7 separate regions of the Homo sapiens genome follow, and regions 1, 2, 4, 5, 6 and 7 are each reported to be linked to region 3. Evidence: microRNA targets listed by miRTarBase, many of them from high-throughput screens and not tested one by one. Region 3 holds a microRNA gene; each other region holds the end of a gene's coding sequence. Distances are from middle to middle.
Evidence for each region. Region 3 holds the annotated microRNA hsa-let-7g-5p (UGAGGUAGUAGUUUGUACAGUU, at 1,533-1,554, opposite strand). A microRNA usually pairs through its seed, bases 2 to 8, with sites in the 3' UTR of a target mRNA and lowers its output. Matches are read on the target gene's strand: a 7mer-m8 pairs with bases 2 to 8, a 7mer-A1 pairs with bases 2 to 7 and ends in A, and an 8mer does both.

Region 1 (4,066 bases), not on the chromosome of region 3:
GGCACAGGCTAGGCCAGCGGTGAATACTTACTGAAAGGAGCTGGCCCTCCCCTTCGCTCTTCCTCTGCCCACACTTGCTTCTCTTCCACCCACCAAGGTGTGCTGTTTGCCCAGAAGCCTGTGGTCCACCTCATCACGGGGTCTGCTCCCCAGAGCCTCGGCAGCAGCGCCAGCAGCAGCAGCAGCTCTCACTGTTCACCAAGTCCTACCTCATCCCGGGGCACCCCCAGCGCAGAGCCCTCCACCAGCTGGTCCCTCTGATGGGCAGGACCCAGCTTCCCACTTGCCACTCTCCTGTCGAGAGTGAAGGAAGTTGATGCACAGAATTTACCTCATCTCACAGAGCCCACGTCGACGAGCACCATTTGGCCAGACATTGAGAGTTTGGACGTGTCCGTCTGTCCAGGCTCCATTCAGGTCCTGCTGTACTCTGGGGGCAGGGAGAGGCTAGAGGGGCAGGACAGACAGCGTTGTCCAATCAGGGATTGTCCTGGAGAACTGGGTGGGGGTCTGTGGGTGTCCAGCTTCCTCCAGGGTTCCCCAGCCACCTCCCAGCTCAGGGCACAGTGTATCGACAATCTGTCAGCCGACGCAGGGCTGGAGGCCCTCCATTTCCCTCCCCTTTTAATTTATTTCCCTGACCCTGCCTTCTGCCATGACCCCAGGGCCACTAGTCTCTTCCCCTGTTTTTAAGTCCCATGTGGGGCTGCCAGGAGCCAAGAGCATGCCTTCATGCCCTTCTCTGCAGAGCATGGGATGGGGCCCTTCCAGCCCACTTTGCCTACTGTTAGGTTCCTGGGGTACGGGTCCCTCAAACACAAGTCTTGAATCAGTCCTCAGGGCCCCAGATCCCCCTTCTAATAGTCTGAAGGAAGAGGCTGTGAGGGCAGTTCAGGGCCAGGGCCCACAGGGCATCTGCTGATGGGAAGGCAGAGCCTCGGGGCTGCCCAGCCCTGGCACCTGCTTCACACGGACCATTCTCTGACCGCCCCCGCCAAACCTCATGCTCCCCACTTGCCCTTATTGGCCTGCTTTCCCAAAAACAGCCCACTCATCCTTTCCCCAGCCCTCTTCAGCCCTCCCCAGTCCTCCCCAGCCTTCTTCAGCCTTCTTCAGCTCAGCCCTCTTCTATTTCTTATGGGGCCATCTTGGCCTCACCATCCCCACACGTGCCGATGTCAGGTTCATTGAAATACCTCAGATTTGTAATTGTTGATGTTTGAGTCTTCAGGAAGTATTTGCATCTCTGAAATCTTTTTTATATGTGTTTTGCTGACTTTTGTTTTTTTTTTATTTTAAAATTTTTATCGTAGCACCAAAGAAATGAAAACAGATCACCCCCAAAGCCAAGCAAGTGATTGGGTAACCCGGCCCCTCTGGCCCTTCCCTCAAGCCCAGTGAGGAGGTGGGTGGAGGCATGCAGGGGAGACGACTCAGGGATCGCGGGGGCGGGGAGGTGGAGTGGAGAGGCCCGCTCTCACACCGGGTCGGGCCCTGAAACTGTACCAGTTCTGAAGACCGTTTTCTGCCACACCCCCACCCCCAGCTGACCAGGGAGGCAGAGGACACCTCCCCATCACTCAGCATTCCCAGCTCAGGGCACAGGCAGGCTGGGGTCCTCGCTGGCCTTGCCAGAGGTTGAGCCGCCCCAGGGTATGAGGAGATGAATAACTCCACAGCTCCTCCTGGACCCTGCGCGGGAGCAGGCAGCTCCTGTGCTGTAAAGAAAATTGATTCGCTTGCGGCTCACCTCAGTCGAGGAAGCCCTGGAATGTTCAGCAGAACACCACCACTGTGACATGGGGCTGTGGCAGTGGGAGACACCGCGCGTGGCGTGGGTGTGTGTGGCAGCGTGGCTCGCATTCAGTCCTGTGTAGGAGAGGAAAGGGAATCAAAAGCTTGAGCACAAACAGATACCTCAGCCCGGTAAGCTGCAGCTCTGCTCAACTGCGTCTTCTCTCAGCCCTCCACACACACTCACCCCCACTCCCACACACATACACACACACACACACATACCCCATCTCCCGAGGGCTGACCTCCTCTGGCCTCAGCCTGCAGGGTGTGGGCAGAGAAGGGCATCTGGGACGTGGTGCCAGTGAGGAGCCCAGTTGGCTGGCACTGGGCCCATTTGAAGGTGTCTCAGACATTTGGCCAGTATGTCTTTCTCAGGGGTTTGGTCACAAAGGATGGACTCTTCCCACCCAGAGGATGCAGGGAAAGCACACTGTGTCTTTCCGGTCATTGGATCCTCTCCCTTTCCCCAGGCAGCTCGCCTGGCCACACCGTTGGAGTGAACCCTCACTGCCCTCAAGGACAACAGCAGGGTGTCACCCAGAGCCCGATGAGGGGTGCCAGCAGGTGCCCCCACGAGTGGGGCCTTGGCCCAAGCAGAGCTTCCCCTGAAGGTGCCATCAGCCAGGGCAGCTCTGTCCCCTCCTGCTCTCCATCTTATATGTATTCTAACCAGGAAAAATGTGATAGCACATGGGTAGCCTAGGCAGTGAGTAAATACCTCAGATGTCCTCCTGCAGCAAGTGTCTATATGTTGTGGTTATTTTCTATCTTACATGTTCTCGAATGTTTATATTTCAATAAACCTCTACCTCTTCACACAAGCAGGTCTCTCTCAGTTGCTTTGAGTGGCCTTTCCACTGGACAGTACTGGGGAGAGGTGAGCTCCTTCAGAGTGAAAGGGGACTGAGTGAACTACTCCTGACCCCTTGATTTCTCCTGAACCTTCTCCCCTTCACCCACGCCTTCTTCAAAGGGAAAGCTCACTGAGCTCACTCTCAGCTAACCTTGTGTGTTAGCAGGTTTCTCTGGCGTTACCCCAGAAGCTCCTAGAAAAGCCTGCCCGGCAGCAAGCCACAGGCCCCGCCACGCCATTGGCCAGGATTGAGTCACGTGCCCTCCCCAGAGCCAATGGGAGCGAGGGGGCAGGGTGACCGGGAATGACCTTAGACTGCCCGCCCTGCGCGGAGGGAGATCCACTACAGGCTGCGCCTCTGCCCCTGCGAGGGGCACCCCTGGGTCTCTGGGAAACGGAATGGAGGGTCTTATGGAAGAGAAGGTTTGGAACCACCGCTGGAGGGAAGGGGAGAAGAAAGCAAGCAGGAGTGGCGCGAACAGGAAGGGACTAGGGATAGAAGCCGGGCTTGGACACAGTGAGGCACGAACCCCGACAGACACAGAGACAGACAAGGGGTGCTGATCTCCTCACTGGGCGGGGTGGGCAGGAAAAGGAACAGGAGCTGGAGCTAGAGCGAGGGCTGCGAGCGGCGAGTGGATACCCGGCCTCAGGGAGGAGCTTCCAGGAGGGCAGGGGTCTCCTTTGGAGCAGCACCGGGGACGTTTGCTCGGCAAGGGCTTTTTGTGCGAAGTAACCGAAGCCAGTCAGGCTAATGGCGGCAGAGAGAAGGATTTATTCTTGCACCCAGGGTGTGCGGAGGAGCCCAAGGGCATTTGGACCTGTGTTGACGTCCGGAAGGGCCCGGAACCCAGGAAGCTCTGCCCGCAGAGGGTATTCCTCTCCCTCTGAAGACCACCTCAAAGCTCAACTTTATCACCTCCACGCATGAGACCGCCGGCGGCTGAACTAAAATCTCACCATCCCAATTCCAGTTTCTGGGAATTGTCACCTCCATTCGCTCTCATTAGAAATCCAGCTTTTTTCACGAGGTGAATAACAGGGCAGTTGACAGTTCCCAAGTTTTCTGTGTCCAATCTTCAGCCCTGGAGGGACTCTTCTGCTCCAAGTCCAGCGATCCCGGGAGGGGGCCCACTGGTCCAGTACGGCTCAGTACCCAGCCCTGGATCCACCAGCTGACGCTGGAAGGAGTGGGTCATGAAGAACTCAGCACGAACGCAGCTGGGTACGAATTCCCAGAGATGTCCTGTCCCTCCACGGTACCAAGGACCCCTCCTTTAAGAAACTGCTTCACTGAAGGCGCAGATGGAGGGAGGGATCGGCAACAGAGTTCAGAGGGGTTCCGGGGGCACATGGCTCAGCCGGAGGAAGCAGGCTGAGGAGGGGCGTTCAGAATGGCCAGATGACCTCGAGGGG
Region 2 (4,066 bases), not on the chromosome of region 3:
GCATGATAGTGCTCATTAAGTTGTGTTTTTTTCATTGCAGATGTTGGTCAGGCGTCATTTAAATATTTTCAGTCAGCAGAGGAAGCAAAGCGTGCCATTGAGGCTGTGCTGTCAGCGGATCCTCGGTCTGTGTACCGCCGGAAGCTTTGCCAGGACCGCCTTTTCTACTTTACTGTAGACATAGCGCATGTCACTTGCTGGTTTGGTGATGGCTTTGCAGAGGTGCTGAGGATCAAGCCGGCTTCTGAGCCTGTTCATATGACTGGCCCTGTGGGGTCCTTGGTGTCTCTAGGGTCTTAAGGAGCCTCCCTCATGTCTTTAAGGTAGCATCATTGATCTTTGGATGTGGCTTTTGGATTTTCTGAACAAGCTAATGTTGTGTCGAGAAGCAACACTTTGTGATCTCATGGCTTTGATTGATTTGGGCTGTTCAAAATGTTTATTTGAAAAACGTATACATTAATAAACTTAACAAAGAGATATAAAATACAGAGAAATCACCAAATGCTTTTTGATCTGTTGATATTAAAGAATCAAAAGGTGATGCTGTCTCGATAATTTCTGAAAGAAGCTGTTCTTGGTGCACTTGATAAAATTAGACAAAGTTCATTCCAGCAGAGACTTTCTAGTTGAGGGGATCTATTCAGTAATTCATATTGGTTTTCCTGTCTGTCTGGAAAAGCCTGACCTTTCTATTTGATTCCAAATCAAACCTATATCAGGAAACTAACAAATAAAAAACAAGTAGAGATAGTTTTTGAGATTAAACTTATGTGTTTCAGAGACTTTGTGACATAGTCACACACACATATATATATGTATATATATTTAATACTGATTCTAAAATAGAGACTCTCTGAGATTTCTTTGGATGTCTTTGTATCAGAAAAGGAAATCACCCTCAGAAGTTCAAGAAAATTGTTACTGTTTTTTTGTTTTTGTTTTTGTTTTGAGATGGAGTCTTGCTCTTTCGCCCAGGCTGGAGTGCAGTGGCGTGATCTCGGCTCACTGCAATCTCTGCCTCCCAGGTTCGAGCAATTCTCCTGCCTCAGCCTCCTGAGTAGCTGGGATTACAGGCGTGCGCCACCATGCCTGGCTAATTTTTGTATTTTTAGTAGAGACCATGTTGGTCAGGCTGGTCTCGAATTCCTGACCTCGTGATCCACCCACCTCAGCCTCCCAAAGTGCTGGGATTACGGGTGTGAGCCACCGTGCCTGGCCTATAATTACTGTTTTTTAATATACTCACTTTGCAACTATTTATTGAGAACCTATGGGTTAGGTTTTGGTGATAAAATAAGATGACAAGATGTAGTTCTTGTTGCAATCATGGTTAATGGAAGAAGTAAGACATAAATAAATTATTGTATTATAGTTTTAGAAATACAGTAATTATACATGGATCCTCTGTAGTACCACATAGGAAACAGTTGTAAGAATGTATTGCCTATAGGTGATTTTAATGATGTGCTCCCAGATAACTGAGGATTTATGATCAACATAACCAAATTAGACACCTGTCAACATGATACATGCTTTCCTAATCATGATTGTAAATCTTAATAGCTGATCGAAATGAGCTGATTGAAATAGTCTTGAATAGTTTTGAAATGAGTTCTGCTGCCTGTGGATACTTGTGCAGAGTCATTTGTGGCTGATGACACTGTACTCCTAAACCAAACTGATTTGTAATTGCCTTTGATGTTACTTAGAACTTCTTGGGGAGGTATCTTTAATTTGATTTTTGGTTTTTGATTTTTTTTTTAGAGATGAGTCTCATGCTTTTGCCCAGGCTGGAGTGCAGTAGCCTGATCATAGCTCACTGCAGCCTTAACCTCCCAGGCTCAAGGGATCCTCCCACCTCACCTTCCTGAGTAGCTGGGTCTACAGGCTCATGCCACCATGCCCCACTATTTTTAAATTTTTTTGTAGAGACAAGGGTCTCGCCTCATTGCCCAGGCTGGTCTTGAACTCCTGGTACCAAGCAACCCTCCCTCCTCAGCCTCCCAAAGTGCTGGGATTACAGGCATGAGCCACTGTGCCTGGGCTAATTTGATTTTTTAAAGCTTTTTATTTTGAAATAATCAGAGGTTCACAGGAAATTGCAGAAATAGTAGAGGTCCTGTGTACCCTTCACCCAGCTTTTCATTTAACTTCTTCCAGTGGTTGGTTCCATCTTACATAACTATAGTAAACGTTAAAGGTAGGAAGTTGACACTGGTAGAGCCTACACTTTAGTTTGATTTTGTTGTTTTTTCTTTTGAAAAGTTATTTTGAAGCTTCATCAGGGCTTGAAGCACAAAATGTTTTGTTTAATATGTTAACAATGACTCTGGGGGATGGTAACCAACGGCCTTATAACAAGAGGACTATTAAATTGTTTGGGGTTTTATTATACAGTCTCAGGATTTTAGAGCTAAGAAGGATTTTAGGCTGGGCGCAGTGGCTCATGCCTGTAATCCCAGCACTCTGGGAGGCGGAGGCGGGTGGATCATTTGACGTCAGGAGTTCGTGATCAGCCTGGCCAACATGGTGAAACCCTACCTCTACTTAAAATACAAAAATTAGCTGGGTGGTAATGGCGCATGCCTGTAATCCCAGCTACTCGGGAGGCTAAGGCAGGAGAATCGCTTGAACCTGGGAGGCAGAGGTTGCAGTGAGCCGAGATCGTGCCACTGCACTCCAGCCTGGGCGACAGAGTGAGACCCTGTCTCAAAAAAAACCCACAAAAATAATAAAAAGGATGTTAAATATAATCTGGCTCAGTTTTCTGCCAGTTCCTGAGTCTCTTCAATGTTCCCACTATCTGGCCTTTCCAGGCCCTGCCTAAATGAGGTATATACCCCTGACCTGTGCAGCTTATTCTTTATGGGCAGTGCTCATTATTAAAACATTCTTCCTGAACGTGAGATCCACTCTGTCCTCCGACAGCTCTGCCCACTAGAGAGGCCACACAGGCTGGTTGCCCTCCCAAGTTAGCCTGTCATACCACCCCTTGGTCTTCCCTAGGCTGAGCACCCCCGTTTTCTTCAGCTGTTTCTCATAACATGATCTCAAGCCTCTTCTGAACCCCAGGCTTTCTTGAGTCTCCATATGAGCATTTGCCTCTGTGGGCACAACTTCAAGTGTCCTTTGTGAGGAAATGTGCATCTCTGGTTGGTGAACTTCCATCCCTCAGAGAGAAATAGAAGCACAAATTTGAAACAAGCTGTCTGTCTGTCTGTTTCTTTATGTCTTGGAAACTTTATTTATCCATCCAAGCTTTTTTTTTTTTTAGCCTTTGAGAGCAGGCAACCATCCAAGCTCATTCCACGAACCCAGAGAATTAAATATACCTGATTTGTAGCACAAAATAAATAAATGATAAAAGTTCCCTCAAACCTTCCATCAAGTGGTTTTAAAACTGTCATTGATTTTATGTCCGGAATTGAAGTTGTTTTGGTGCGTGCATGTACACACACGCATGTACACACACACACAAATACACACTAATCCTAAAAATGAGATGGAAATGAGCTACAAGAAAACTCAAAAGTGCCATAATTATGACTGTCAAAAATAGTGTTACAGCTCTAGGGTCGTTTTGTGTCCTATTTGTATCAAAATCACATTTGGTCCTTTATTAAGTGGGAGGTGAGTACATCAAGAGGAAGAGGTTGCTTGATTCTTGGTCCTTTAGATTTTTAAGACTCTTTGGCCAGAGTTTTGGAAAAGGGATTGTGTCAACAAGCAAAGTTGTGGTTTCAGGACTGCCTTAGAAACTTTTTCAAGAGAAGAAACAATTCTCTACTAGGCGTAAATGGCACCCACCTTAATTTTTAGCCTTTGCTTTTTGGTGCCTGTAGGGGGAGCCCTTGATAGCAGATTTTATTCCCATTTCACTGGCTTGGAGGAAAACACCAGGAGTTCAAGCTGTTTAGGTAATTTTGGCGTTTGGCCCACCTGCCCCAGCTTTAAAGAACAGTAACTTGTACAAGCAATGCTGACTGATGATTGTCAGTCACATGTGAGAAGAGATTAGAAAGATGAGTGGCATTTATTAATTTTTTCTTAAATTGTAAGCTTG
Region 3 (4,066 bases):
AGAGTTGACTATTTAAGAGAAGATGAAGAATGCCAAGCAGTAGTGAGGAAGTAGCTTCAGTTCACTAATAAGCTCTCTCTAGCCTTCTATTCTCTGGGTAACCTCAGGGATAAAAGAACTATCTGCTTCTATAATACGTGGGTCTTACCTTTTGCTATGTCCAGGAAAGTATCTGATGTATTTGTTGTCATGCAAGGACAAGTAACGAATAGTATCTGTAAAAAGACAAACAAGGTATGATGATATCATACTATTTAAAAGAAATTTACTTTACATTTTCATCTTAAAAAGACAAGGTCAAATAATCCATTGTATTCTATATCCCAAGCAAGGCATGAATAAATAATGGTGAATAATTCTACTCTGCAGCTGAAGAGTGGGTATGTAGATTTCACCTAACTCAAAAGCAGAGTTCTTAAGTTGACAGCATAGAAAGCAATGTTTGAAATGACCTTTTATTACCAATTTGGTTTCTTCATAATTACAATGCAACTCCCACCCTGCAAATATACCCTGGTCAAAAAACAAAAACAAGTAAAGCACACATAATAATTTTAGATACTGGTCTAGTGTCCACAGAATGGCAAACCTTAAAGAAAAATATGTGGCTGTTGAGCTAACAGACTTAAAGAGGTGAGCAGCCATGGCAGTTAAACTGAAGATCAGGTTGAACCCTGGCAGCAATTTTTGTCTAGAGTTCTCCATCAGTATGTTGACCCACCCTCAACTCATTTGAACATTCTTCAATTGGACACACAAATTACAATGAAAATAAACAAAACGTCAGAGAAGTGATGTCAAGATCTGGGTTAAAAAGATCTTAAGACATTAAAAAAATCAAATTCTTATACCAATGAGTAATAGCAGTGAGATTTTGACAATATTAAAGAAAGGAACAATCAGAGATTTGTGCTTGTGGAAAAATAAGACACTCTTAACCAAATGATTCTATCTGAAAGAGTAAACAAACAAAAAACATGGTGGCGGTAGAGAAATGAAGTGCCATAAAGAATAAAACTGCAAAATAGAAAAGTATTATCCCCTTAAAAAGACTAGGAATAAGGAAAAATTGTTGAGAAACAGCTAAGGGAAAATGGTACCAAAATGCAGAAAGAAAACCATAGAAAGAACATTCTGAAGGCAAACAGAACATAGGAATAAAGGGGTTGAAAGCATCGAGTCATCCCAGGGGTTCACAGGGGTGCTTTCTAATAAGAGGGCATTTAACTTGGGAGGGGGAATAGGGGAATAGGGATATTTGTATATTCCATAACTTGAACACTACACAATTTTCCTTGAAAACATCTTCAAACTTCTTGAATGACAACTACGAAGTATTTCTAGTTATTCTACTGCTAACAATGACTCACCTGCCCTAAGAAGAAAAAGACTTCCTCCCCATTACCTGGTTTCCCAGAGATGAGCAGGGTGACGCCATCCTCTCAGCCCCACTTGGCAGCTGGCGCGCTGTTCCTGGCAAGGCAGTGGCCTGTACAGTTATCTCCTGTACCGGGTGGTATCATAGACCCTCAAACTGTACAAACTACTACCTCAGCCTGGAATCAGGCAAAAGGAAACGGAGCGCTGGAGGAACTCTTCAGGATGCACTTGAGACAGGAAAGGGAACATCCTCACAGCAGAGGCTTGGCAGCAAAGCTACAAGTGCCACACATTTGCCTCATCTTGCACCACATTTGGAGAATCCTCATTTAATCACTCAGAAAAACATCCCAACAGAAGAAATAAACCAGTCATTCGGATGATCACATAGACATGTTTCCTCAGGATCCTAAGGTTTTACATTCTTTTCCAAAATCATTAACTACACTGCTTCCTTAGAAAACCACTTCTGAAATACAGGCATGAAAAGTAGAAATGACATACTTAACTAAAAATCAATACAGGCAGAAGAGTCTCATTAAAAAAAAAAAAAAATGGAAAAAAGGACTTCCGCCCATTCTGCTCTGAGATAGGCACAGCCAAAATAGCAGTATAAGCTATCCTTGTGGAATGACATTAGAAAAATCTTTTTTGTTTTTTTGAGATGGAGCCTCGCTCTGTCACCCAGGTTGGAGTGCAGTGGTGTGATCACCCTAGACCTCCAGGGCTCAAGCAATCCTCCCACCTCAGCCTTACAAGTGGCTGGGACTACAGGCGCGTCCCATCACACCTGGCTAATTTTTGTATTTTTTGTAGAGACGGGGTTTTCCCAAGTTGCCCAGGCTAATCTCGAACTTCTGTGCTCAAGTGATCCACTCTCCTAGGCCTCCCTAAGTGCTGGGATTACAGGCATGAGCCACTATGTAGCCACCGGCCTAAAAAAAACCTTACTGCAAAATGTGAGATGATCATCAATAATCCACTGAAATAAGTTTAAAAACAGAATCCTGGCCGGGCGTGGTGGTTCACACCTGTAATCCCAGCACTTTGGGAGGATGAGGCAGGCAGATCACTTGAGGTCAGGAGTTCGAGACCAGCCTGACTAACATGGTGAAGTCCCAACTCTACTAAAAATACAAAAATTAGCCGGGCGTGTTGGTGGGCACCTGTAATACCAGCTACTTGGGAGGCTGAGGCAAGAGCATCGCTTGAACCCAGGAGGCTGAGATTGCAGTGAGCCGAGATTGCACCATTGCACTCCAGCCTGGGCAACAAGAGCAGGACTCTGTCTCAAAAGAATAAAGAATAGGCCGGGCACGGTGGCTTACAAGGTCAGGAGATCAAGACCCATCCTGGCTAACATGGTGAAACCCTGTCTCTACTAAAAATACAAAAAATTAGCCAGGCATGGTGGCATGCACCTGTAGTCCCAGCTACCTGGGAGGCTGAGGCAGGAGAATTACTTGAACCCGGGAGGCGGAGGTTGCAGCGAGCTGAGATCGCGCCACTGCACTCCAGCCTAGGCAACAGAGTGAGACTCTGTCTCAAAAAATAAAAACAGACAAACAAAAGAAAATAAACAAAATTAAAAAATTAAAGAATTCTAACATGAAAATAAGTGTTACAGTTCAGTTACCAAGACAATCTGTTAACTTAGGATTTATCTCGAGACATGCAGGCAAAAACAGAGATTGTTTATTATAGAAAGAAACTCACAAGTTCAATTTCTAAAAGTAACTCTACTCTTTAGATCAAAAAACGTTCCTGGAATCAGAAGTGACTAAGGTTGGGAAAACACCAAAACTGTTCTAACTTCCCTTAAACTATCATAGTTCAAGCATTTGTGAAACTTTTCTCAAATCTCTATCATTTTAAAAGAAAAAGTCCTGTTGTTTATCACTTGCTGTGTATCAAGTGTTCTTTCCTTTTATTTGTTCTAAAAGTGTTCTTTTTGGAGATGGAGTCTCACTCTGTCGCCCAGGCTGGAGTGCAATGGCGTGATCTTGGCTCACCACAACCTCTGCCTCCCGGGTTCAAGAGATTCTCCTGCCTCAGCCTCCTGTGTAGCTGGGATTATAGGCGTGCACCACTGTGCCCAGCTAACTTCTGTATTTTTAGTAGAGACAAGGTTTCACCATATCGGCCAGGCTGGTCTTGAACTCCTGACCTCAGTGATCCGCCCACCTCAGCCTCCCAAAGGTTGGGATTATAGGCGCGAGCCCCTACGCCCGGCTTTAAAAGCGTTCTTTTAAGTGTCAGGAAGTACAAATCATAAACACAATTAGTTGTTTCCTTTTTCCACTCCCCACTCTGAATTGAAGACTTTTCATACTCAGTCCCAAGTCCTTCAAAAGTGCCAATGGCTTGCTTCCAGCATTCCTTCAGTCAAAACAATGCAATTAACATTACTAACATTATATGAAAATACTTAAACTAAAGTAGTCACAAAGCAGAAGTAGTCACAAAGATTCCATGAACTATTTAACAAAGGAAACCATGACCTTAACTTCCTAAAAAGGCTTGCTTACCGTCTATTTTGTTAGAGCTGTAAACAACTGTGTTTGCTGCATGAGTGTATCTGATGAGGTCCACACCATATTTCTTACTGTACAGGGTTCTCTTTGGTCTGATAAGAAAATAGAGACAGAAAATCATGAACATTCTCCATCATCAAAATCTGGGATCT
Region 4 (4,066 bases), not on the chromosome of region 3:
GCAGGCAGATTGCTTGAGCCCCGGAATTTGAGACCAGCCTGGGTAACATGGCAAAAATCTCGTCTGGACAAAAAAATACAAAAATTAGCCAGGTGTGGTGGTGTGCGTCTGTGATCCCAGCTACAAGGAAGCTGAGGTGGGAGCATCCAGGAGGCCAAGGCTGCAGTGAGCTAGGTTTGCACCACTGCACTCCATCCTGGGCGACAGAGTGAGACAGCCTGTCATTAAAAAAAAAAAAAAAAAAAAAAAAAAAAATCAAATTTTCAGTACTTGAGATCTAGTAGAAACTAAGGGATGGGAAAAACCTTTTCATTTTTCATCTTCTTTCCAACAATATGAATTTCTTAGTTTTCAAACTATACTCAGGAAAGCTGGGCTTTAGGATTTAACATGTAGTGATGAGTTCTGTGTGTATTTTAATATTTTACTCAGGATTCCTATTAATTGAAAAAAATTTTTAACTTTTTTATTATAAATCTTTTTTTCAGGGAGGAGATATCACCAAACATGATGGAACAGGCGGACAGTCCATTTATGGAGACAAATTTGAAGATGAAAATTTTGATGTGAAACATACTGGTCCTGGTTTACTATCCATGGCCAATCAAGGCCAGAATACCAATAATTCTCAATTTGTTATAACACTGAAGAAAGCAGAACATTTGGACTTTAAGCATGTAGTATTTGGGTTTGTTAAGGATGGCATGGATACTGTGAAAAAGATTGAATCATTTGGTTCTCCCAAAGGGTCTGTTTGTCGAAGAATAACTATCACAGAATGTGGACAGATATAAAATCATTGTTGTTCATAGAAAATTTCATCTGTATAAGCAGTTGGATTGAAGCTTAGCTATTACAATTTGATAGTTATGTTCAGCTTTTGAAAATGGACGTTTCCGATTTACAAATGTAAAATTGCAGCTTATAGCTGTTGTCACTTTTTAATGTGTTATAATTGACCTTGCATGGTGTGAAATAAAAGTTTAAACACTGGTGTATTTCAGGTGTACTTGTGTTTATGTACTCCTGACGTATTAAAATGGAATAATACTAATCTTGTTAAAAGCAATAGACCTCAAACTATTGAAGGAATATGATATATGCAATTTAATTTTAATTCCTTTTAAGATATTTGGACTTCCTGCATGGATATACTTACCATTTGAATAAAGGGACCACAACTTGGATAATTTAATTTTAGGTTTGAAATATATTTGGTAATCTTAACTATTGGTGTACTCATTTATGCATAGAGACTCGTTTATGAATGGGTAGAGCCACAGAACGTATAGAGTTAACCAAAGTGCTCTTCTCTAGAATCTTTACACCTCCTGTGTGGTTACAAGTTAACTTTGTAAGTAGCGTACCTTCCTTCCTTAAAATATCTAGCTTCCTGTGCCCTTTCATAGATATTCGATTAATTTTTACATTTTAAACAAGTTGACTATTTCCTTTAGGGGTTTTGTTTCAAACTTTTCTGTCATCTGTCTCTACTACCTCAGAAACTGCAGCTTGGTTCTGATGATAGAAATTGAATTTTTCCTTGTAGTTATTGTGATAAAGTATGAATATTTTTAGAAAGTCTATACCATGTTCTTTCGTTAAAGATTTGCTTTATACAAGATTGTTGCAGTACCTTTTTCTGGTAAATTTTGTAGCAGAAATAAAATGACAATTCCTAAGAGCCACTGACATCCAAAAAATTCATTACTTACGCTTCGGGTTCATTCTAAAGTAAGGAAGACAATTTAAAGGCAGTAAATTCAAACTGCTGCATAATTTCCAGAGCTCCTAGTTTCTCAAGTTTGATACACACCAAAAACGTATTTGGAAATGGCTTGTATCAAATGTTAGGCAAATTGCTAAAGAAAAGAGGATGTTCTTATTGGCCTACTCAATATGGAACTACAAAGAATCCAGGTAGAACACAAAATTTTGTATATTGCAATTATGAATATTGACTGTCTTCCACCCATCTGTGTTCTTTCGGGTGAAATTACCTCATTTTATTTAGTGAGGAAAGACAGGTTTATTCCCTGTTACATGGGGATTTGGAAATTGGGTATCCTAAAGCAAGTAACTGTTCAACCACCAGTCAAAAGAGGGGAGGGATGTTGTGCGAGTAATGAGTGATGGTATACCATCACCATTCCACTCGGCCACAAAGCCAGATACTTGAAATAAACCTACTCCAAATGTATCAGTTCAGTCTTGAACCATGGATTACATATGTTTACACTAAATATTTCAAATTGGCTTATTTGGAAATCTATGTAATATAAACTGATGTAAAGTGTGTTGTAACTTTTCAGCTGAGACAGTTGATGCCTTCGTCATGATTTTAGAATAAATTCTTAAGTTAATGCAAGTGCTTTTTAAGAGACTTTTTACAGATTTGTATGCTTTCCTAAAGCACTAAAGTTACAAATTAAAAAGCTTTAAAAACTTTGACCAAAAATTTGACAAAATGACATGTAAACTGACTTTTCCCGTATTAGTATTCCAAAGATGCTTAAAAGTGGCTTGTGGCATTTATGAGAAAGTCTTTGTGTCACATTTCAGGAAAGGACTTTGATTTCTCTTTGTTATTTAATCACTGATGTGGTCTAAACCCACGATAATATGTATCTTTCCTTTTAAACTGGATTTTATGTTGTCTCATTAAAATCTGCTTAAAGATAGAATAAAATTCATTATTTGTACATCTTAAGTGGTACTTTATGGCAAAAAGTATGGCCTAAGTAATTTTCAGATAATAACTGCTGAAGTACAGATTTTATAAAACTTGGGCATTTGGGAACTTTAATCCAGAGAATTTAGGAGTTGTTAGTCCAGAGATGCAGCTGACAGTCACAATTTAGAAAGTAAAAGATTACACCACTGTAATTTTATGAATGAGAAAAATGAAGTGGTTGTACAGTTCCCCTCAGTCAGTTTTGTTTAACATAGGTTTTCAGGTTGATGTATACTATGTACTATGGTTAGCACTGTTGTAGGTATTGGCAAAAGCTTTTTTCTTTTCAAAAAAAAAAAGTTTTTTTTCCAGGGTGCTTACATTCTAACTATTCTTTTTAATACCCTGTTATACCCCATATGGAACACAGGGAAAGTGAGGTAATCTGCAATGTCTATGCTCAGCTTTCCCTTTTTTTTTTTTTTTTTAACTTTAAGAGATGGGAGTCTTGCTATGTTACCCAAGATAGATGTAACTCTCAGGCTCAAAGCAATGCTCCCGCCTCAGCCTCCTTAGCAGCCGGGACTACACGCGCGCCACCACTCCCGGCTCAGATATACTCTTGGTTTTTCTTTTATATGGCAGTTAGCAAAGGTCACTTCTGATGGAACGACCGGTCTATGTGGTGAGCGCAACGCACACCAAACTTAACAGGTTAAATGGAGCTGGAGCGGAGCGCTGCAGGCAGGTGCGGGGCCTCGGTGCCCCTCAACCCGTGGCACCCAGGCAGCCGGGGCAGGACTATCGCGGGGAGATGCAATACTACTCAGTTACGAGGTGTGTAGTGCTAGCACGAGAAACTTGGAGGACGCGCTGACAAGCCGGGCTGCAGTCTCCGGGTCGCCCCGCCCCGCCCTTTCCCTGCCGCCGTGCGTGCCTCGGGGGGGCGGGGTCTGGCACGTCGTGACGCACTGCGGCCGCGTAGCGCCGCGGGTTTGATGAACGCGGTTCCCGGGGAGACTGGTACGGTTGCTGTGTGCTATGGAGCCGAGGGTCGTCAAGCCACCGGGGCAGGATTTAGTAGTGGAGAGTCTCAAAAGCCGCTACGGACTCGGGGGCAGCTGCCCCGACGAGGTGAAGCCGCCGCCTGAGGTCCGCGGGTGGGCTCCTGCTGCTGGGGGGCGGCCCGCTCCGTGCCCCGCGCAGCCGGCCTGGGGGCGCGCAGCGGCTCTGGTCCCGGCCCCGGCACTCCCGCCGTGGCTGCGGCTTGGGCCTCGTGGAAGCAGGCGGGAGGGGCGGGCGTTGCGCTGCGGGGGTGCGGGGGTGCCGCTTCACCTATGCCTCTGTGTTCCTGGTATACTGGGCATGGTGTGGTGTTGGAGAAAGTGCTAT
Region 5 (4,066 bases), not on the chromosome of region 3:
GCTCATCTAGCCCTCCTCTTTGGCTTCCATGACACTTGGCTATCTCAGTCGCCTCCTATTTCTCTGGTCACTACTACTGTCTCCTTTGCAGGCTCTCTGCTCTGTTGGGCCCTTAAAAACAAGTAATAATAGTAGCAGCAACTGATACATATCAGTGATTTACTCTGCCCTGGGCACTACATAAGCATCAATCCTCTTAATCCTCAAAGTAATCCTAGATCCGCTCTCCAACCACCAGCTAGAGTGATTTTTCTAAAAACCGTATCTCATCATTTTCTTGCTTAGAACCTTCTAATGGCTTTCCTCTGCCCACGGCTTTTTTTTTTTTTTTTTTGAGATGGAGTCTCGCTCTGTCACCCAGGCTGGAGTGCAGTCGCACAATCTCGGTTCACTGCAAGCTCCGCCTCCTGGTTTCATGCCATTCTCCTGCCTGAGCCTCCCGAGTAGCTGGGACTACAGGCGCCCGCAACCACGCCCGGCTAATTTTTTGTATTTTTAGTAGAGACGGGGTTTCACCGTGTTAGCCAGGACGGTCTCAATCTCCTGACGTCGTGATCCTCCCGTCTCGGCCTCCCAAAGTGCTGGGATTACAGGCGTGAGCCACCGCGCCCGGCCGCCCACAGCTTTTAAAGTCTTTCAAGATCTGGTCCCTGTCTACCTCTCCAGCCTGATTTCTCATCACTGCCTCTTCCTTTATAACCTGCCTGCTTTTAGCTTCTCCAAGAACTTCAGGTCTTTGCATGTGCTGTTCCTACTGCCTGAAACACTTTTCCTCCACCTTTCAGCCTAGAACCAATTCCTCTGGGGGAAGGAGATTGGTTATGTGATTGACGCTGAAATCAGTCTGCCAGGTTCAACTCCCAGCTCTGCCACATCCTAGCAATAAAACCTTGGGCAAGCTATTAAACTCTCTGGCACTGGCTGGACATAGCGGCTCATGCCTGTAATTGGGAAGCTGAGGAAGGTGGATCACTTGCGGTCAGAATTTTGAGACCAGCCTGGCCAACATGGCAAAACCCTGTCTCTACTAAAAATACAAAAATGGCCGGGCATGGTGGCTCACACCTGTAATCCCAGTACTTTGGAAGGCCAAGGTGGGCAGATCACTTGAGGTCAGGAGTTCATGACCAGCCTGGCCAACATGGTAAAACCCCATCTCTACTAAAAACACAAAAATTAGCCAGGTGTGGTGGCATGCGCCTGTAATCCCAGCTACTCAGGAGGCTAAGACAGGAGAATTGCTTGTACCCGGGAGGCAGAGGTTGCAGTGAGCCAGAGGTTGCAATGAGCTGAGATTGCACCACTGCACTCTAGCCTAGGTGACAGAGCGAGACTCCAGCTCAAAAAAAAAATTTAAGAAAGAAATAAAATAAAAATAAAAATACAAAAATGAGCCAGGCATGGTGGTGTGTGCCTGTAATCCCAGCTACAGGGAGGCTAAGGCAGGAAAACTGCTTGAACCCGGGAGGCAGAGGCTGCAGTGAGCCGAGATTGCGTCACTGCACTCCAGCCTGAGTGACAGAGCAAGACTCTGTCTCAAAAAAAAAAAAAAAAAAAAAAAGTAGATAAGGCCTGTTGTGAAAATTAACCAGTATAGTAAGGTGCCTTGCAATGTTACATGTGTCACCTGAGTATTTTCTGACCCTAGACCATGTTAGGACTCCTTGCCAAGTATTTCCCTAAACTTTATAATACCATAAACTCCCAACCTCACTCTTGAAATGTTTGTCCATCTGCCCACCTTGCAGGCTGTCAGCTCTGTGAAAGCAGGGGCTTTCTGACTTTGATCCTGCTCGTATTCCTAGTGCCTGGCATACAGTAGGTACTCACGTTTGTTAAGTCATTAACTAGAAATCCAACACCTCCTAGATATCATATCCTGGTGATATATGCTCTCCAGCAAACAGCTAGTTTGAACAAGGAAGGATGGAAGATAAAGTTTTTAACAACAAGGCATATAGGGCAGACTCACACTAAGGCTAAAAGCACTCACAAAGGCAACTTAAATCATTAAGAAAATATCTTTATTTATTCTGAAATGTTCCAATAATCAATGTAAAAACTGTGGTAGTGGCTCTTTCACAACTTTACAAATTATAGAAAAATGATTTTTCCTCTTCTTTACAGAAATGTCACTCCCAAATCGTACCGGGCCCTATTATGGCTAAAACCCAGCAGGAAGAAGGGAGCAGAGAATACAGCAAGCAGGGCTCCGGCTCTCTGGGTGGCCAGAAGGCTTTTCCTACACATTAAAGCCCAGGCTGAGTCTCAAAGACCTGTGACCCCTCTGAAGGAGGCTCCATCCACATGGATCTGTGGCACACTGGGGCAGGCCTCTGTCTTGAAGGCCAGTAGGCCACAGAAGACCTGAAAGCATGGCACTCGTGGTTGCAGGCCACAGTCAAGGCAGCTTTGTGAGAATGAGAACAGGAGGCGAGCCTATAGCTCAAATCCCTTTCTCTAAAACACAGCCAGAAAAGAGGCTGTGGACACTGGCCAAACAGTGCACTAGGTTTAGAAATTTCCCCTTTTACTCAGCAAAGACTAATTTGTTAAACAGCTATTAAAAAAAAATCAGAAAACAAACATTTGGTTCCATTTCAGCTGTAATCAGCAGTTGGTAATTTTTGGAAAAAGAGCAGTTTTCTCATCTTGAGTTGCTCATTAAGTCTGTATTTTTTATCAGGCCCCTGACTCCTTTCTTTCTCATCCATGGTTTTTTGGGGAGGGGGGCAAGTACAGCTATAGGAGAAGGCTGTTTGTTGATTTGAGAAAACTGTTAAAATGTTTTGCACTCACATACAAAGGCTGATGGAATTCAAAAATGATCCCACTGATTTTTATGAGAAACATGACTGTTCCTCTTGGGTGTCTCAAGTCAAAACAAGGCAACCGCCTAGTGATTTATAGTTCCCACATTTTCCGCCTTCCAGAAGGCATTAGAGAAAGGGCCAACCTCTGCCAGGAGAGATTGTAAACACACCACTGACAGCTTGGACACTTTGTTTTTAAATGCAGCAGGGCTTTTTCCTTTGGCCCTGGCTGAAAAGCCAACTCCCTAGGACAGTTTAAGAAGGAGCAGATGGAAGGACTCCCCTAAAACCTAAGAGTGAGGGACTAGTAGTCCCCGTTGACTGGAGTATGGCTGGGAACATCATCAAAGGCAATGGATACATTTAGGCCATATGAAAATTGTCCTGTGGTCCCCCAACTGGCCCCTAGGCTCAACCTGGCTGGACATGAGGCATAGGAGGTACAGAACAAGTTACCATAAGGCACATAGTTGAGGTAGCCCCCACACCAGGCCCAGAAAGATTATCTTTTCGCACGATTCCAAAAGTGTTGGAAAGCAGAGGAGTTGATGACACTCACTATGAGCAGCAGCAGCAGATACAGGGATATCATGACGGTAAACCAATGGCTGGAAAACCAGGAGAGCTGGCTCGAAGCCCTGCTTAAGAGGGAAAAAAGAGTGGTGTTGGCAAAAAGAGAAAAACATTTTTTTTAAGTGTGTACAACAAGTCTGGCTCTAAGAAGACAAAATGATGAATTTCATCCTTTGCCTGAGCCATGAAATGAAGCTTCGTGCTTCCTTGCTCAAGAAACCTGGGGCTGTTTGCCCAGGCACTGACACGCCTTTCAACAGGATATTTTCTAAATGCGCAAAGACAGCTATGCAATGAGCTCATCCTGATCTTCCCTTTTGTAGCTCCTCTTTTACCATTTACAACCCATCTTGGTATCTATAACAATGACCTAGCTCAGGGTGTCTGCCCAGATGGTGGCAGGTGGCAGGTAATTTAGCTGAAGTCTTTTCACTTTTAGACACATGCAGATATAAATCCAAGCTGGGGAAATCCTCTTTGGCCCACTAGGAGATGATCTAAACCACCCAAGTGTGCACTAAAGAGATGCTCCAGGGAGAAGTGGGAAAGGAATGGAATTTTCAAGGATAAAAAGTTAGATGATTTTAAACCAAAGCATAATGTCACCTGGACCCAGGCACCCTATATACATTTCCCAAATTTGGACAGGGGTCGGGAGGAGACTTTACTGGTTTATGAAG
Region 6 (4,066 bases), not on the chromosome of region 3:
CCCAACTACTGCTACAATGGGTCCACTAACCGGTAAGGGAGTCCCTGTGCAGAGGGGGCCGGGTGGGGGTTGGGGGAGTGGCCAGCTGCCTCCTCCAAACTAGGCCCAGTACATGTGTGAGTGGTTCCTGCAACAGGTGTCTCTCAGAGCCCCTCCTGGGCACAGGCTTTGTGCTGTCTCACTTGCCTAAGGTCATAGAGCTGGTTGACAGTTGAATGTGGTTAACAATTAGGTCTTCTTTCATTGAAGAGCTCTTTCTACTGCTACTCTGAAGTTGCCCATTGGGGTGTTTTCCTGCTCCAGTAAAACATGGGGCATGCCATGGTGAGCAGATACCTTCCTGCCTCTTGAGTCTTCAGACTAGAGGAGGATGTGGGTGATCAATCACATGACAAATGTACCATTACAAACAGTGAATAAGGAGATGAAGGAAAGCCCACAGGGCCATGACAGTGGTAACAGTACCACCTATTCCAGTCCAAAAAGTCATGCAAACCTCAACGGAGGCTTCCTCTTTGAGGAAGTAATGCTGGAGTTAAGATGCAAAGGATGACTAGGAATAAATAAGGCAAAAAGGCAGGAGAAGAATATTCCAGACAAGTTTCTAAGGGTTTCTCCAAGAAGTTGATGAGGGTAAAACTAGTCGGGTGGGAAATGGTGCTGTGAAAGATAACACAGGAACAGATTGTGCAGTACTCTACAGGCCAGGGCAGGATCGTGCATTTTTATTAACCCTGAAAGAGTTTGAGGAAAGGAGATGACATGATCAGATTGTATGTTTGTAAGGATATCCACGTATCTGAAAGCATGCCTGCAAAACAGCATACATTTGCAGAGCACACATACGCATGACAAAGTGGAACTTGCCTCCTGCAAGGTGCACACGGCCCGGGGCCAGGCACTGAGGTAGAGACAAGACCTAATTTCTTTATCCCCACAAAGTTTCATAACCCAGTGGAAGAGTAAGGCATATATATTCACATACAAAATAAGTATGTAAGGATGCAAAAAAAATGTATTCATCTGCAGATCTTCTAGGTATCTCCAAGCCTTGGCTCAAGGCCAGTATTGAATGAGTGTGTGTTGAATGAATGAAAGGGTATGGGAGATATCCACAAATGCACCTGGATCCACACACTAAGTGAGATAGATTTCCAGTTCTATAAAGATTTAGGAGCTTTAACACTCTTGAGCAGGGAGCAGCAAACTGTGGCTCACAGGCCACATCTAGTTGCTGACTGTTTTTGTAAAGCCCATGAGCTGAGAATAGTATTCACACTTTTGGGTGGTTGAGGGGAAAAAATCCAAAGAAGAATAATATTTGGTGACAAGTGAAAATGATTTGTATTTGATAAAGTTTTATTGGAACTCGATCATGCTCATTTGTTTATTATTGTCTGTGGGTGCTTCCATGCTGCAACAGCAGAGTTGAGTACTTGCAACAGAGACCGTCTGGCTTCCAAAGCTAAAAATATTTGCTGCCTGGCTCTTTTGAGAAAGAGTTTGCTGAACTCTGCTCTTGAGAAACCAAACTGGAGGTAGAGGAGTGGAGCCCTAGAGAAAGTCCACTCTTAGTTTCTTGCCTAGTGTCATTCGGAGCAGCCACAAGCCCCTGGTTGAGCCCAGGAATCTAGACTGAATTTTTCCCATCTATAGAAAGGAGACGGCAGTTGAATGGGAAGATGTCAGAAGAGTTTAGTACCTTTATAGTCAACCACCTAACAAACAGTGCACTTGTACCAGTGCAAACCTTCACCTGGCCAGGAAGCACTCCTGTTATCTGTGTCCCATGGAGAATAATATTAGGACCATATTAACTCTTTCCCATCCCTATGCTTCTACTAGTTTTGTGCGGACTGCCATTCCTTTCACCCAAGAACCACAACGAGACAAACCTGCCAACGTCCAGCCTTATTACCTCTATGGATCCAAGGTAAGTAGTCCTGCCCTACCCTGCCTAGAAGAGGGTTGGTGAGAAAAAGCAAATAGAAAAGTGTCTCTTAATTAGAAGAGTAAGAAGGTGCAGAGATAAAGGCAGCAATGAGGTCAGGCACAGTGGCTCATACCTTTAATCCCAGCACTTCAGGAGACCGAGACCAGTGGATACTTCAGGCCAGGAATTTGAGAACAGCCTGGACAACATAGCGAGACCCTGTCTCTACCAAAAAAATAAAAAATAAAAAATTAGCTAGACATGGCGGCATGCACCAGTAGCTACTTGGAAGGCTAAGGCAGGGGGATCCTTTGAGCCCAGGAGTGTTATGCTGCAGTGAGCATGATTGTACCACTTCGCTCCAGCCTGGCTGACAGGGCGAGACTCTTATCTCTAAAGAGAAAGGAAAAAGGCAGCAATAAGATCCAGGCAGAAACAGCTGTGAGTATATGAATCTTTATTTGTTCACAAGTAGCAGGAATGGGGGCAAAAGTCTGGGTGCCGAGCAGGGAATGCATGAGGTAGGCAAGGGAATAGGGATGTGGGGCTTCTCGTCTTGGCTTCTCAGCTCCTGCTGTTTCTTAGTTGATTCACTGCAGTGTCGTCCTGTGATTCTGGGATTTTGTGCTCTATAGATATAAGAGGGTACTGGGAAGGTCTTGGATGATGCTTGGAGAGTACAGGCGTCTTCTCCAGAACAGCCTGCCTAGTCTGGTCAAGACAATTTTCTCAAATCAAGGGAAGCTGACTGACAGCATTTGAGGTGGTTCACAGACATGGCATTTAACTAACACTGACTCGCAAAGTAAAAACAGCACTTCCCTTTTCGATTCTCTTTCAAACCTTATGCTATATCAAGGAGAAAGACAAATATTGGTGCTAATATGTCTTTATTACCTCTCCAACACTGGATCTCCCTTTTTATCAAAGACAAGCAAGCAGGCATTAAGCTCAGAATCACTGGCAGGCAATAGAAGCTAAGTCAGATTATTTAATATTATCTTGTTTTCATGATGTTTATTCTTATGTCTCTTCCCTTCTGTTTGCAGCAGGAGGGTGCTGGTTTTTCACTTATGGAGTAATATAAGGCTGTCTTTGAAAATAAGTTTACGCTTAAAAAATGAGTCAATTTAAAGGAAAGTATTATTAATAATAGTGAAGATAATCCATGGTTTTAAAAAATAGAGAGCGGTGGTATGTGATTGCCTAAAAGTTGGAAAACACTCCAGAGCAAGGGTTCTCACAAATTATTTCCAAATAATCCCAAATTATTTCCAAATAATCCCCTCAAGGGCAGAGGAAACTGGACATCTACCTTTGCCCAAAAGTGTACCTCTGAGAGCCTACTTGTAACTCAAGTGTTTCCTTCAAGTGCTGTGTTTTATTTGTCATGCAAATTTTTGCTTTCTACTTTATAACATATCCATGTTTGTTTTAATGTTAAAACAATGCTTTCAATTCTTAACTGTGTCCTCCGAGTGGACGCTGCTGCTGAGATGCCTCGTTTGTGCCTTGGCATACCCTGGGGGATACATTTTCCAGCTTGAGAAGCTTTGTCATGGGGCATTCATCCAACCCAGGTGACCTACAATAGCAGTGACGTTTGATGGGAGAGAAATGGGTAGTCTATAGACACATTTGTACAAACGACCTACTGTGTGGAAAGCTTTAGGCTACATGATGCGGGCGCTCTCCTCCCCACTCTCATTCCCCACAATGAGGCAGTATAGCGGGTGGGTCACCACCCCCCCTCTGTAAGGCACCCGCATCAGGGGCATCCTGGTTGGCTTCGGGATCCAGTTCAGCTCCATCTCTGGAGTTCTTGCGTGGCATTTCCACCAGGGGGAGCCCCTGCAGGTCTTCCTCCCTCTGACCAAGATCCGGGGCCTCCTCTGGCCATCTCACCAACCCATTGGCCTCCTCCATGTGGCCAGCCCTGTAAGACCATCGCGGCTCATGGCAACGGACACACCAGAACTGGAGGCAGATGAAGGCCAAGACGGCTGTGAAGCAGGCCAGCAGAATGGCCATCAGCACCCAAAGGGAGATCTGGGGGTCTACCAGGGAGCTTCCAGGAGCCAGCGGACTCTTATCCAGGGTGTGGAACATGGTGCAGTAGTGCCTGTAAGGGAA
Region 7 (4,062 bases), 130 Mb from region 3:
AAAATCTGTTGGCTCTTCTCTTTCTGTAGGCAGAGATAAACTGCTGCCTTCCTTGGGCAGGACTACGCCTGTCATGGGAGGAAGGAAGGGCAAGAAAGGACAGATCTGGTTGCAAATGTTACAGTCCTTCCCAGCCTCCAGCCAGAAGCCACGATGTGGCAGGATGAAGATCTGACCTCTCTCACATCATAGTCACGGCCTGAAGTCATTAAGTGACTGAATACAGGCACTTCTAATTTTTGAACCAGCACTCAAGGCTTCACTTCTACCTTTGCAAAAGCTTTATCTTCCAAAAATACCCTAAACTGCTACCAATTTAGAGTAAATAATAATAATGATAAAATAATAATAATAATAGCTACCATTTATTGAGCACCTACTCTACTGTGTGCCAGGCACTGTGCTAGGCACTTTTCGTACAATATCTAATTTAAATCCTCACAACAACCCTGTGAGGTAGGTATTATTATCATCATTTTACATACGAGGGAACTGAGGCTCAGAGAGGTTAAATAACTCTATCACACAACCAAAAATAGTAGAGCTGGAATTCAAACCCAAAACCACCTAACTCCAAATCCCATGCTCCAATGAATTAAAGTAGAGAGGGGAGAGGGAGGGCCAAATTCAAGACAGAGTGTTGGAGTGAAATGGATATGATATGCTGATAAGATATGGGAAGAAGGAATGTAAGCTCATAAATGTTTCTAGCTGGTGAGCCTATGTAGATTGTGATGAAGTAACCAGGAGAGGAATTCAGGAGGAACATACTTGGTTGGGCAGATGAGTTGAGTCTATACGGAACTGTCCATAGAGATGTCCAGTAGGTAATACCAATACAGATCTAAAGTCTGGGGGAAGTTGGGGGTTGGAGCTATGTATTTGGGAATCACCAGCATATCAGCAGCAATTGAGGACATCAGGATGAATGACTCCATTTTGGGAGTAAATAGAAAGGAAAGAGAAGTGAATCAAAGATGGAACGATGGAAGCACTGATACTGACAGGCATGAGCAATCGTTGAGAAATTCTCAAGAGAGTCGGACAAGACAGAGTCAGAGAGAGAAGTACATGAAACAGCCCTGTAGTGGTGGCTAGAAGCCATGGACTGGGTTGGGAACAATTCTAGAGCTCCCAGAAGGCAGGCAAGATTGAGTCACACTTCCAACAAAGCCCTCTGCACACCAAAACCCCAGGAAGTATTGTTTTTCTTTGTTAGTTTGCTTTTGAGACAGAATCTCACTCTGTCACCCAGGCTGGAGTGCGATCTCAACTCACTGCAACCTCCGCTTGCTTCCTGGATTCAAGCGATTCTTGTGCCTCAGCCTCCTGAGTAGCTGAGATTACAGGCAGGTGCCAAAACACCCATCTAATTTTTGTATTTTTAGTAGAGACAGGGTTTTGCTATGTTGGCCAGGCTGGTCTCGAACTCCCGACCTCAAGTGATCCACCTGTCTCAGCCTCCCAAAGTGCTGGGATTACAGACGTGAGCCACCGCACCCGTCCAAGGAAGTATTGTTAATTGAAATAAATGCCAAAATGTTCCTACCTTGGTTTACCCCAAAACCTGGAGCTAAGAACTTCATCTCACTTTTGACACCCCAGCCCCCAAAATATGGAAGCCCAGGAGAGCCAGGAGAATTTATAGCAGAGGCTTAAAGAGAAAGTTATGATTTGTTTAAAGTAGAGAATAAGGTGAAAAATAAAACCTGGTACTCTGTCTGGAAGTCCTGGAAGTCTCCTTGCCCAACCTCAACTGGCCTGTGGGCTCCTGTGTCCTTGCTCTGGGATGCCATGGTGAATGTGAAAACAGGGGAGGTTGTGTGTGGGGGTGGGAATGGCCTGTCGGTTGCAAGGCGAGTCCTTTGCTGAGCCCAGCCTGAGACCCAGCTTATGGGCTTTATCCAGGTGAGAAAATGCTGGGGACATGTGTGCGAGGTTTAAGGTCTACCAGGAAGGGGAGAAGGGTGTCAGGGGACCAGCCCCACAACCTAGGAGAGGATTAGGAGGGTCCAGCCCTTTGGGCAGGGACCAGCCCTGAGGCTTAAATGAACTTGCATAGGCACCTGTGTATGCATCTCTGTGCATGTATGCATACATGAGTGAGAGAGAAAGATAAAGAGAGCTAAAGAGGCCCCCCTCCCCCCGCCGCAGGCTGCCACACGTGGTGCGATCCGATTCTCTCTGGAAAGGAGGAGAGTCTCTCATGCATGGGTGAAGTTGGGCCCTCCCCAGAAGCCTAGTGACTCATTATGTTAACGTGTGGGTGTGGGGGCTGGACATCCTTGGGAAGCCCTGAGGGGCTGCTGAAGCAGGGTTCCTGGTCTCCTCGGAGGCTGGGCCTCCCCTCGCTGGGGGCTCACAGAAAGTCAAACAGCCCGAAATTCTTGGCTGCTCCAGGCCCAGGGTAAATTGGGGGAGGAAAAAAGAAAGAAAAGAAATGTTTCAGGCCTGGAGGTGAGATGAGCCTGCTGGTTAGTAGGGTTAGGGGTCTGAAGGAACCAGCACGCAGGGCAGGCATGGGGCAGGGGTAGAGCAGAGATGCTCCCTGGAAGCCACCAGCTGCTCAGGCAACTGAGGGGGCCCTCTGGGCCTCTGATCTAGGCACAGGCAGGGATGGCATGGATGGCTATTGGAGGCGACTACAGCTTTAGGTTGCAGGACTGAGGCAGCAGGCAGGGGGATGGTTAGTAGGGGCAGATGAAGCAAATATATTTTGGTTTCAGTAATGTGGGGTAAAGTCAAGAGGTTTGCACACGTGCCTGATGGGGTGGGGTTAATAGAGGGATGATGTAGCTGAATAAATGGTGAAAGGGAGCTAAAGGGGAAACGAGAGAATGAGGGAGTGAGCGTGCCACCAAGGTCATTGCTGGGGTCAACTCCCAAAATGGGGGTTGCAGAGGGGAGTAAGGGGTAGCACCAACAAGTCTGGTCCCAGAGACAAAAGGGGTCCTGGGAAGTCCTGCGCAGGGATTAGTGGGCAGAGGAAACGAACTGGGGCCAGAGGCAGGTTAGGGGGCTGCAGAGCCAATCGGTAGGTGCACCCCACCCTCGCAGCACCCTGCGAGCAGTTAGCGCACCTGGATTTAGTTCCTTTTATTTCCCTTTCAGGTACCAGACAAAGTAAAAAAGACGGACGGATGGAGAGAGGAACGCAGCCGGCTGGGGTGGGAGCGGAATGGAGCTGGGGGAGGGGCCCTGCTCACATCACATCCACAAAGAACTCACTGGGGTTTCCCATGGCCATGCGGAAGGACTGTCTGCTGGCGGTCAGTTCCGGGGGCACTGAGGCCAGGTCGCGGCCCGGAGGGGCTCCTGGGGGCCCCATGGCCGCGGGCGGCGGGGGCATCATCAGCATGGGGGGGCCGTAGAGAGGGGGCACTCCGGGAGGACCGTAGCTCGGGTGTGTGTGGTGGCTGCGAAGGCTGCTGGCCAGGGAATGGTGGCTGCGGTGGCTGTGCTCGCTGGCCGCCGGCCCTGAGCGCTCGCTGGGCGCCCGCTCCCGCGGCCCCCGCAGGCTGCTGCGTGTGGTGTGGTCCGATTCGCTGCCGCTGCCCCCGGACTTGGAGTCCCCGGCCTTCGGGTCCTTCTCCTTCCTCCGATCGCTGCCGCTACGGTTGGAGCCACTGCTCCGACTGCCTGTAGGAGGCAAACAGGGCCGGGGTGGGGCAGGCTGAGCGGGCGGGGGAAGCCTGGGGCCCACCTATAGCCTTCCTCCACGGCCCCTCTACCTTACCTTCGCTGTGCTGACTGCTGGCGCTGCCCCCGCCGTAGCTGTAGCCCAGCTCCGGGAAGCCCGGGTGCGGGTTGTATGGGTGCGGGGGTGGCGGGTACTGGTACGGGAAAGCCATGGGCCAAGGGGCGGCCCCCGGGTGCGGCAAAGGGGCCAGTGTGTCCTGGTCAGAGGCGCCACTGGAGCCATCGTGATCGTGGAGAGACAGGTTGGCCATGTCTGTGAAGGGGAGGGCCGGATGGAGCTAGGTCTTTCCGGAGAGAGGTCCCTAGCCTAGGTCAGGTGGGCTCTGGATGAGAGAGACCGTGGTAGTTTCTGGCTAGAATGAG

Region 1: miRTarBase lists ARID3B as a target of hsa-let-7g-5p. Seed matches in the 3' UTR shown: 7mer-A1 at 329-335, 7mer-A1 at 1,194-1,200, 7mer-A1 at 1,915-1,921, 7mer-A1 at 2,513-2,519 and 7mer-m8 at 2,603-2,609.
Region 2: miRTarBase lists TRMO as a target of hsa-let-7g-5p. The part of its 3' UTR that is shown has no 7-base or 8-base seed match.
Region 4: miRTarBase lists RANBP2 as a target of hsa-let-7g-5p. Seed matches in the 3' UTR shown: 8mer at 1,494-1,501 and 7mer-A1 at 1,998-2,004.
Region 5: the mRNA of PARP16 is a reported target of hsa-let-7g-5p. Seed matches in the 3' UTR shown: 8mer at 3,285-3,292.
Region 6: miRTarBase lists FNDC9 as a target of hsa-let-7g-5p. Seed matches in the 3' UTR shown: 8mer at 2,451-2,458.
Region 7: the mRNA of DVL3 is a reported target of hsa-let-7g-5p. Seed matches in the 3' UTR shown: 8mer at 453-460.

What each region holds. Positions count from the first base shown.
Region 1 is chr15:74,595,514-74,599,579 of GRCh38, forward strand. It overlaps ARID3B (AT-rich interaction domain 3B), which reads left to right. Exons shown (of 9, transcript NM_006465.4): 9 at 98-2,618. The coding sequence ends at 261. CLK3-AS1 (CLK3 antisense RNA 1) reads right to left here. Exons shown (of 9, transcript XR_007064715.1): 9 at 3,406-4,066. Among named protein-coding and RNA genes, the nearest start is that of CLK3-AS1, 18 kb to the right of the region's middle. RefSeq lists enhancers at 1,496-1,996, 2,612-3,500, 2,775-3,069.
Region 2 is chr9:97,900,967-97,905,032 of GRCh38, reverse strand. TRMO (tRNA methyltransferase O) reads left to right here. Exons shown (of 5, transcript NM_016481.5): 5 at 41-544. The coding sequence ends at 300. Among named protein-coding and RNA genes, the nearest start is that of TRMO, 20 kb to the left of the region's middle.
Region 3 is chr3:52,266,804-52,270,869 of GRCh38, forward strand. MIRLET7G (microRNA let-7g) reads right to left here and starts at 1,558; the gene lies at 1,475-1,558. WDR82 (WD repeat domain 82) reads right to left here. Exons shown (of 9, transcript NM_025222.4): 2 at 3,909-4,006; 3 at 149-215.
Region 4 is chr2:108,783,108-108,787,173 of GRCh38, forward strand. It overlaps RANBP2 (RAN binding protein 2), which reads left to right. Exons shown (of 29, transcript NM_006267.5): 29 at 489-2,702. The coding sequence ends at 794. It overlaps CCDC138 (coiled-coil domain containing 138), which reads left to right and starts at 3,664. Exons shown (of 15, transcript NM_144978.3): 1 at 3,664-3,808. The coding sequence starts at 3,716. RefSeq lists a silencer at 3,473-4,062.
Region 5 is chr15:65,256,092-65,260,157 of GRCh38, forward strand. PARP16 (poly(ADP-ribose) polymerase family member 16) reads right to left here. Exons shown (of 6, transcript NM_001316943.2): 6 at 2,008-3,451. The coding sequence ends at 3,316. Among named protein-coding and RNA genes, the nearest start is that of SNORA24B, 27 kb to the right of the region's middle.
Region 6 is chr5:157,339,225-157,343,290 of GRCh38, forward strand. It overlaps FNDC9 (fibronectin type III domain containing 9), which reads right to left. Exons shown (of 2, transcript NM_001001343.4): 2 at 2,374-4,066. The coding sequence ends at 3,638. It overlaps CYFIP2 (cytoplasmic FMR1 interacting protein 2), which reads left to right. Exons shown (of 31, transcript NM_001037333.3): 22 at 1-32; 23 at 1,846-1,933. Among named protein-coding and RNA genes, the nearest start is that of FNDC9, 4.4 kb to the right of the region's middle.
Region 7 is chr3:184,169,896-184,173,957 of GRCh38, reverse strand. It overlaps DVL3 (dishevelled segment polarity protein 3), which reads right to left. Exons shown (of 15, transcript NM_004423.4): 14 at 3,737-3,952; 15 at 344-3,639. The coding sequence ends at 3,203. Among named protein-coding and RNA genes, the nearest start is that of AP2M1, 2.9 kb to the left of the region's middle. RefSeq lists an enhancer at 2,123-2,417.